Regions from separate parts of the Homo sapiens genome. Here region 2 is linked to region 1. A link means that fine-mapping ties the variant in region 1 to the expression of a gene that starts in the linked region. Tissue or cell type: sun-exposed skin. Region 1 holds a variant in brackets; the other region holds the start of a gene. All regions are shown on one strand. Distances are between the middles of the regions.

Region 1 (5,264 bases):
TCTTGGCTCACTGCAGCCTCAACCTCCTGGGCTCAAGTAATCCTCCTACCTCAGCCTCCCTGTAGCTGGGACTAAAGGCGCACGCCACCATGCCTGGCTAATTAAAAAAAAATTTTTTTTATATAGAAACAAGGTCTCACTATGTTGCCTAGGCAGGTCTTGAACTCCTGACCTCAAGCAATCCTCCCACCTTGGCCTCCCAAAGTGCTAGGATTACAGGAGTGAGCCACTGCGCCTGATATTTCTTAATCTAATGGGCTAGGTGCTGTGCCTGACGCTGGGGGCACAGCGGTGAGTCAAAGTTCCTGCACCCAAGGAACTCATAGTCTTGGGGAGTAGACAGATATATCAACAGGAAATTATAATACAACACAGCAAAGGCTGATCTAAACTGGGCTCCTGATGATCCTGCTACAAACTTGTTCTTAGGTTCTTTCCCATCTCAATAAATGCTAAATCCCTTCTTCCAATTTTCCAATTGCTTAGGGTTTTACCCACCAAAGTCACCCTTCACTCTTCTCCTGACCTACATTTGATCTGTTGCACAAAAACCACTGTCTTGACCTTCAAGGTACATCCAGAATCCCAACATGCCTTACCATCTTCATCACCCCACCCTAGGCCGGCCACCATCATTAATTGTATGGGTCACTGCACTCATCTCTTAAGTAGTCTCTTTGCTTTTGCCCTTGACCCCCTTCCTTCCTGTCTATTTTTTTTAGCACAGAAGCCAGACCGATCTCCTTAAACTGTAAGTTAAGTCATGCCGGCCTTACTCTTCAAAGGCATCCCATCTTAGATTAAGAGGTGGACTTTGCAGTCCCTACACATCCCTGAAGATCAAACCATCCCCTCTTCCCCATCTCTGGCCTCATTGCCTGCTCTCCCCCAACCCCCTGCTCCTAGTGTGTCCTTCTCACAGCCTCCCCAGCACACTTGAGATATTCAGCCTCAGGGTTTTTGTGCCTGCAGTTTCCTCGATCTGGAATCTTCATCTAGATTGAGCAGCAGCTCACTTTCTACTCCCTTTGGGTTTTTCTAGTAATGCCACCTGCTCAGTGGTGGCTTTCCTGGTCACTCTATCTAGAATGGAAATTCCTCTCCACCTCCTCCACTGCTTTATTTTTCTTCTTACCACTTATCACTGCCATAACTTAGATTTTACTTGTTTATCTTGCTTGCTGTCTGTCTCCTCCCACTACTCCCATGACGGCAGGTATGTCTGTTGCCTGGGAATACTGCTGCATCCCCAGCACCAAGAACAGTGCTCAGGCTATTTCAGGTGCTCAGCGCGCCATTGGTGAATGAATGGATGGAGTGCAAAGTGAGAGAGAGATGTCCAAAGTGTCATGTGAGCACAGAGGAGGCATAACTTTACGGAGTGGGGGCTGTCAGGTAAGGTTTCCTGGAAGAGGCTATGTCTGAGCTGGGTCTTAAATATAAAGAGGAGGGAACACAACATATAAAGAGAGATAGAGAACGGAAAGGATTAAATCCTCCAGGGTTTAGCACAGTGCTGGCTAAACTCTGCAGGTTTAGAAATGGGCACTCAATATGTATCTGTTAAAGCAGCGGTCCTCAACCTTTTTAGCACCAGGGACCAGTTTAATGGAAGATGATTTTTCCATGGCCTGGGGTTGGGGGGGATGGTTTCGGGATGAAACTGTTTCACCTCAGATCATCAGGCATTAGATTCCCATAAGGCACATGCAACCTAGATCCCTCGCATGCACGGTTCACAATAGGGTTCGCACTCCTATGAGAATCTAATGCTGCCACTGATCTGACAGGAGGCAGAGCTCAGGCAGTAATGCTCAGTCGCCTGCCCACTGTTCACCTCCGGCTGTGCAGTCCAGTTTCTAACCTGTCTGTGGCCCAGGGACTGGGGACTCCTGGGTTAAAGGAATGAAAGGATGGAGGAGAGAGGAAGCTCTTCCAGGCAGAGAAAACAGCAAAAGCAAAGGCAAGGGGTGAGGAGGGCAGTGGAAACAGTTTGATTGCTGGGGCAGAGAAAGGTAAAGAGAAAGATGAAGCAGAGAGAGGTAAGTAGGAGATGGGGTGTGGTGAATCTTGTAGTCCATGCTAAGGTGCGAGGACTTGATGCTCAGGGCAGCCACTGCAGGCTGAGAACCCCAGAATAACCTGGTCAAGATCAGTGTTAATCCCTCTGAAGAGAAGGGATGTAATGTCACTGCTTGGGTTCGTGCTCGTGAGGGTTTAGTTCCTGAACCTACATCTCATCCCCCTGGAGCCACCCCTCTTGTGGCAGTGAAGTTAGTTATTAGCCAAAGAGTACATATGCCCTA[A/C]GCACAAGGCACATCCTCCCAAGCACCTTCCCGGGGCTCTAATTTGCAGAATATGAAGCAGGATGGATAGCTCAAGCTATACCGCCTTGAAAAGCAAACCCAGGCAGTACCAGCTTTTGAAGGTAGGAAGACAACCATCTGGAAAAGACAGTTCTAAGACTCACCCTCCAGTGTGCTGAGGTTGGCATTTAGCGCTTTGACTTCACTTGCAATAATGGGACAGAGCTGGCCACAAAGGAATAAAAAGAAAAAAGCAAGTTACCATGTTGTACTGGAAAGCCTTATTGATGGGCCTAGACCCTGCAAACAAAGGCCTTCTGGTTAGCAGTCATTATCCCTTTGGTCATCGAGACATTCTCTTAAATTTGTTGATGTCTATGGGCCTCGCTTTACGTAGATACGGGTGGTATGTCACTGAATGCCAGCTGAACTTTGTAGCAACTAGCACTACATCCAATCAGCCCTGTAAAGAGTGAGTGAGCCCTTGTCGTTTCTTTCTGTGACATGATAGGGCATGCGTCCCAGTCCATGCTGTTATACCCGAGGAACCTGCTGCTGGAGCTGCTGTATCTTTCCTGACTGCTGGGGGTGCCGCCAGCTTGCCATCTCCTCTAGGAGCGGTTGCATGCCCTACCTGGAATGGTTAGAGCTGGAGCTTTTTTTTTTTTTTTTTTTGAGACGAAGTCTCGCTCTGTCACCCAGGCTGGAGTGCAGTGGCGCGATCTCGGCTCACTGCAAGCTCCGCCTCCCTGGTTCATGCCATTCTCCTGCCTCAGCCTCCTGCGTAGCTGGGACTACAGGCGCTCGCCACTATGCCCGGCTAATTTTTTGTATTTTTAGTAGAGACGGGGTTTCACCGTGTTAGCCAGGATGGTCTCGATCTCCTGACCTCGTGATTCACCCGCCTCGGCCTCCCAAAGTGCTGGGATTACAGGCGTGAGCCACCGCGCCCGGCCCCAGAGCTAGAGCTTTTACTTTCCCCCTGGGCTAGTTGGAGAGCACATTATATCAGAGATCTACTTAGAGATCTATTTTGTTGCCACCTTTTTGGAATTTGAAAATTAGTCTTGAGTCACATTAATATTTTTAGGAAGGGGCAGAGGTATCAGCACTGATGTGCCTCTTGTGTGCTCATTGATGTGCTTGGCATAGTGGGTACAGCACAGGCTTGGCTGCCTGGGGCCGAGGGTTGAATCCCTTGGCAAGTTACTTGTATTCTTTGATCTCAGTTTCCACATCTGCAACATTTGCATGGGGATGATAATTGTGTCCACCTCATCACATTGTGAGTAGAAATGGAAGTAATCCATGTAAACTTGCCCAGCTTATAGTAAGCATTGAGTAAGTGTTAGCCGTTGTTAGTTTAACTCCATTTCACCTTCACTACAGCCTTGAGAGGGAGGCATGACGGTCCCCTAATTACAGATGGGAAAACCAAAGCTTAGAGAGGTTAAGTGAGTTGCCAGGTGTTGCATAGCCGGGATTTGAACTCAGTTTACACAGCTAGACAGCTGTGGTCTCAGCATTCTTTTCTATCTTCCAGTGGCACAGAGAGAATCACAGAAACATCTATTATCTTTAAGCCATAAATCAATTTCAGGCAAACTTAATTATTGGCTTCTGTGACATAACTCATTCTTCACTGGCCTCCTGTCAGAGGCAAAAGGACCGTGCCTCGTTTCAAACAGGGGAATGATCAAGTTTGGGGTCCTTGAGGATGACAGTGCACTTTGCCAGGGACTCTAATATGCACACTCATTGGCACTCAGCATCTGTCAGGTAAGGATGGAGAAGGACTATAAGGCTTCTGAGTCCTGGACAGCTGCGCCACCTCCTGGGATGAGCTGCTTGATGCTTCTGAGTGTTGATTTCCTTACGACTTTCATTAAGCACCTATAATGTCTGTCAAGCACCGAGCTGAGCACTAGAGAGATGGACGTGACCAGACCCTGTCTTTGTCCCTTCTTTTCCAGAAGAGTCTTCCTTCTTTTCTATTCCTCCTCATCCCTGTCCTTATCTCCCCCAAAATACAGGTAAACGGTTCAGGGAAGGTGTGGTCATTATTGGAAAGAGAGTGCATAGACAATTCCATCTTTCCCTTCTTCAGACACTGACTTCTGAGACTAGAAGCCTTATAGCTTTGGAAAGGATCTTAATATATTCTATTTTCTTAACTTATTCCTATTGTATGTCCTGGAAATACCTCTTCTTATCCTTCATTCCTTACATATACAAATCCTACCTATATGTTAAGATCTAGTTCAAGTTCTGCATCCTGTAAAAATTATCTCCCAGGACACTTCCAGGCCCTATTTCTTCAAAATTTTCCATTTCTCTGAACCTCTCCTGCTCAATCTAATGATCGTGTAACTGTATACTAAATTCAAGTACTCAGTTAGTTATTGTTTCACAAGCCCGAGTTTGAGCTTTTGAATACACAAGTGTATCCCTCTGTCCTATTCCCAACAGATCCTAGTCCATGGCAGCTGAGCATGCAATAGGTACATAATAAGTAAATTCTTGTTGGTTGTTTGCCCACCCTATGGTAAGAAATTTGAGAGATGTGCTGTTGCTTTCTTTATCTCTGCATCCCAAGCACCTACCACAATATTTGGCACATAGTAGGGATTTGAGAAACTGTTATTAAGTTGCAAAGGATATTTAATGTGTGTGAAAGTGCCTTGGATAGTGCCTAGCACACAGTAGATGCTCAATAAAGGTTTCTTGATTAAGAATTAATTAAAGGATTGGCCAGGCGCGGTGGCTCATGCCTGTAATCCCAACACTTTGGGAGGCCAAGGTGCGCGGATCACGAGTTCAGGAGATCAAGACCATCCCGGCCAACACAGTGAAACCCCGTCTCTACTAAAAATACAAAAAATTAGCCGGGCATGGTGGCGGGCACCTGTAGTCCCAGCTACTTGGGAGGCTGAGGCAGGAGAATCCCTTGAACCCAGG
Region 2 (5,000 bases), 22 kb after region 1:
ACTAAAATAATAAATTTTTATTTCTTTACCCTTTACAAAACTCACAGTTCTTTGAAGTGGATGTTCTTATTATCTTACTCCCATTTTAGACACGTGGACATGGAGGCTTAGAGAATCTGATGACTCGTCCAAGATCCCACAGTAAGTAAGGCACCTGGGAACCCAACCTTGTTCTTCTGGTTCCTAATTCTAGTGTTGATGAATTTATTTTTATTGAATGACTCGATACATGCTAGGGTTTTCATTTTCATCTGGGAATTTTAAATAGGAGTTGCTTGACACCATTTTCCTTTTTGTTGTTGTTGTTTAAAAGTTACTCAATTTTTTTTATTACACTTTAAGTTCTAGGGTACATGTGCACAGAAAACCAAACACCATTTTCAAGGTGGAAAAATTCAATAAGCATCTAGAAACGTTCAAGCATCACAGTGCAAATCCCTTCTTATTTTCTTGGACACAACTGGAGTTTTAAATTCCCTGCCAGCAGTAAAACCTGTTTTCCCTTCTTGGTTAAAAAAAGTTTCTGAAGTGGTACACTTTGATGGAGATCCAGGAATCCAAAATTACAGGCAGGAAAACATATTTTTCCTCTAGAAATTTTATGAGTGAAAGAAATTACTGGGGTATGAAGGGGTGAATTGTACATAACTTTTCATTGAATTGTTCAGTTACGATGATAACTTATGGGCAGGGGAGGAAAGGAACCTTGTCAAGCAAGGTGATGACTACTAAAAGGTTAAGTAATTTGGCTGACAAGTGCAGGCAGGGCTAGTTGCCTGTTAAAAGGATCCAAGATCACTTAAAAACCCCACCAGCAAGTTATCTATTTTGTTGCTTCTGGGGAATTGCTTCTTTCCAAGATTCAAAATCTCAGTAGTCATTATTTTTCCATACAAATACACAGACAGAATAATACTCCTAAATTAAATGGTCCTTGTGTGAGTCATCCTGACAGCTAAGAAAATGCCAGTCCAATTTAGAAAACACCTGAAACTCACAGATGGTCCTACTACTACTGCTGCTTGGCAAGAGCTTTGACTGACTCTGGAAAAACCGATTAAGGGAGTAATGAATGAGTAAAATGTAGCCTTCAAAACAGAGGCGCAGGTTGAAAAATTAAGTTCAACAGGTTTAAAGAAGTCTAAACTAGAAGGGTATTCCGACATATTGGTTAAGACAAAATGACCGTACATAAGAAGTCTAAATCGACAGGTATGGAACGTGGGCAGAATATTTCAAGGGATCCACTCCTCACATCTAGTTTTATAGCAACATCTCTAATGACAAGGACCTTGAGAATTCATAGCATGTCTTTTCCCCAAAACTCTATGCCTAACACCAACAAGTTCAACAGTCCAGGCAAGTGGGTGGCTAGTTTTGCTCTGGCAGGATCTAGGTCACTGATGTGCTTTAAGACCTGCCTTGAAAGCACAGAGATTATAACAACTCCTTAGTCCTAACCATGCTGATTTTGAGAGACAAGATAGAATTTTCTGCCACTGTGCTGGGTTCCCCTCTGAAATGGAGGCAAAAATAAGTCCAGATCACTGAGCAACCCTCTTAACATTGTTCCATGATGCAAAACTAAGTAGGTGGTTTAAACCAACTCTTTTCTCTCTTATGGCTGTTTAGCTGTCACTAAAGCTTTTGCCTAAGAAGCCTCCAGGTGCGCATATGTGACATCACACAAACAAACAAACAAAGATACAGAAAAATCTAGGCAGACAATAATAATAACCCAGGATATATGACAGCTGCCTGTTCAAAGTGTCCTACCAAATCTGGGACATCTCCAGTTTGGAGATCATGGCTGGCAGAGACCTGAAGTTTGTTCATGAGTCTTACCTCAAGCAGAGGAAGTGTCCAAAGCTGGAGAGCACCTTCGATTCTCTCTGCCTTTGAAGCTGATGTGTTCTCCACCTTGCGCCTTAAACTCAGCTGCTAAAAAGCCAAGATAATTAAGTCTGACTCATCTCAGTGGTGAATTTTTTTAATGCCTCTTTCAAAATGTGATACATAATTGCTTCACTACAATTACCCAATGGCATGAATGAGCACTACAGTATCTACCTAGATAAACAGACAGTGCCACCTATGCAATAATTATCTTCCTGCAAAACACACACACACACACACACACACACACACACACACCACTTGTGAAATTGTGATGGCTACTTTACCAAAATGATTGAAAACGGTGTTAAACTGCATTGGAAGAGGAAGAATTTTCCTGTCTGGAATCATAAGCTGGTTCCTTCTGGTCAGGGTGCCTGCGGTGGATGGCTCTACTACTGCCCAGAATACCTTTGGGACTTGTGGTGGATCATCAGATTCAGTCTGAAAGCATGAGGCTTGACAATCGGGCTGACCTAGTTACCTTATCACTCAGGGTAGGACCTCAGTTGGCATCTCTCAGTGTCCGTCCGCTCCTTTTCAGAATGTTATTAATGACTTACTGTTCCAGCATTCCTTAAACCTAAGTTGGGTGGGTGGGTTCATCAACTATTATGCAACTTAACATTTTCAGATTCCAAACTCCAGCCCTACTCTCATCTCCAATAAATTCATTTTAGTTAATGTGTTTTATCTATTTTTATTTTTATTTATTTATTTTTTGAGATGGAGTCTCACTCTGTCACCCAGGCTGGAGTGCAGTGGAGCGATCTTGGCTCACTGCAACCTCCGCCCCCTGGGTTCAAACAATTCTCCTGCCTCAGCCTCCCTAGTAGCTGGGATTACAGGAGTGCGCTACCACGCCCAGCTAATTTTTTGTATTTTTAGTACAGACAGGGTTTCGCTGCATTGGCCAGGCTGGTCTCGAACTCCTGACCTCATGTGATTGATCCACCCGTGTTGGCTTCATAAGTGCTGGGATTACAGATGTGAGCCATCATACCCGGCCATTAATGTATTTTAGATGGCCAGGGATTTGATTGTATGAAGTTTTTTTTTTTGTTTTTTGGTTTTTTTTTTTTTGAGACAGTCTCACTGTCACCCAGGCTGGAGTGCAGTGGCATGATCTTGGCTCACTACAACCTCTGCCTCCAGGGTTTAAGCGATTCTTGTGCCTTAGCCCTCTGAGTAGCTGGAATTACAGGTGTGCACCACCAAACTTGGCTAATTTTTGTATTTTTAGTAGTGATGGGGTTTCACCATGTTGGCCAGGCTGGTCTTGAACTCTTGACCTCAAGTGATCCACCTGCCTTGGCCTCCCAAAGTCCTGGGATTACAGGCATGATCCACCGCACCCAGCCTGATTGCATGAAGTTCTTATGGCTTATCTACACTTTTCTGGGTAAGACCCGGTGACCAACTGTCCTGGTTTCCCAAGAATGCAGGATTTTCAGTACTAAAACCAGAACAGTCCTGGGAAAATCAGGATGATAAGTCAGTCTGAAAGGAACCACAGACGCTTTCACTTGGCATTGTCCATACTTCTCACAGCTTCTCAGGGGAGTTATACCTTGGGTTATACTTACTGATTTGAACTGAGTTTCCTTAAGGTAAAGTGGGGATAGAAATAGTAACTTCCTTGATTGGTTCTGGTGAAGAAAAACATAATAACACATGAGAATGCGCTATTAAAACTGTAAACTGCTGTGAAATTCTACTCATTAGCACGTGGCCGTATCAATAATGATACGGTGCAGAGACGCTCTTCATGGGATCATTTATTGTCGGTCATCATAGATGAATTCATTCATTCAATCAACAGATTTACTGAGCACCTACAATGTGCAAAGTCCTCTTCAGCAAAAAAGATGAAATTTTTGTCCACGAGGAGTTTATGTTCTAGTCGATGGAGACAAAATAAATAAGCAAACAATAAAATAAACAAAAATGTATAAATTGTGACATGTACTGTGACGGAACTAAGGGAATGTTGTTGGTAAGGTGGTCTTGTAATAGGTAGAGCAATGCAACTGGGGGAGGTGGGCTTATTTTATCAGGATACCCACGTGGGCGTCTCTGAGGAGGTGATTATTTGCGCTGAGATGTGACCGTTGGAAGCCAGGCAGGCAAAGTGCTGAAAGGAAAAGGTGGAGGGAACTGCAAAGGTGAGCCAGTTTGTCTGAAATGGAGTTGGGGCAGAAGTTATGGTATTCGAGATGTAAATGGTGATGTCAGGTGGGTAGAGTTCAGGGAAGAGGTCAACTGGAAATATGAATGTCTAAGTCATCATCCGAAAGGTGGAGTTAAAGCCACAGAAATGAATGAGATCATTGCAGGCAGCTTCCCACGTGCATGTGCTACTGAAAGTGTGGAAGATGAGTTCAGGCGCTATGCAGAGAAGCTCTTGAAATTGTACTGTGCATTAGAAAAAATACAGAGCTAGACATGGAAGACGAAGGACAACATGGAAGATGAAGGACAACATCAAAAGCACTATATGGAAAAAAAAAATCACAAAACACCTCTACATCTTTCTACCTTTTCCTCACTATTTTCCCCGGGTGGCAACATCAATTTCCTCCCCCGCCCCCTCTCTCCCTGTCCTTCTCCAGGGTCCGAGGTCTCCTCTTTCGTTTCTCTCCTCTCCAGAGCAGCTTCTTGGCTCCATCTTCTTCCCCTGCTCCCACCTTCACTGTCTGGCCCCTGCCCAGCCCATCCCCTGCTCATTCTCAATTCCTTTTCTCTGTTAGAAAGAAACCAACAATCGGCTGGGCGTGGTGGCTCACGCCTGTAATCCCAGCACTTTGGGAGGCCGAGGCGGGCAGATCACGAGGTCAAGAGATCAAGACCATCCTGGCTAACACAGTGAAACCCCGTCTCTACTAAAAACACAAAAAATTAGCCGGGCTTGGTGGTGGGCGCCTGTAGTCCCAGCTACTCAGGAGGCTGAGGCAGGAGAATGGGGTGAACCTGGGAGGCAGAGCTTGCAGTGAGCCAAGATCTCGCCACTGCACTTCAGCCTGGGCAACAGAGCGAGACTCCCTCTCAAAACAAACAAACAAACAAACAAACAAACAACCATAAAATAACAGTATCTTTCCATC

Evidence for each region. PIP is the estimated chance that this variant, and not a neighbour inherited with it, causes the effect.
Region 2: it holds the start of BPIFC, and the variant in region 1 is fine-mapped to the expression of BPIFC in sun-exposed skin (GTEx, PIP 0.98).

The regions. Positions count from the first base shown.
Region 1 is chr22:32,440,201-32,445,464 of GRCh38, forward strand. It overlaps BPIFC (BPI fold containing family C), which reads right to left. Exons shown (of 17, transcript NM_174932.3): 8 at 2,471-2,531. Among named protein-coding and RNA genes, the nearest start is that of BPIFC, 22 kb to the right of the region's middle. The variant A/C (reference allele first, on the strand shown) is at 2,307.
Region 2 is chr22:32,462,529-32,467,528 of GRCh38, forward strand. BPIFC (BPI fold containing family C) reads right to left here and starts at 1,918. Exons shown (of 17, transcript NM_174932.3): 1 at 1,846-1,918.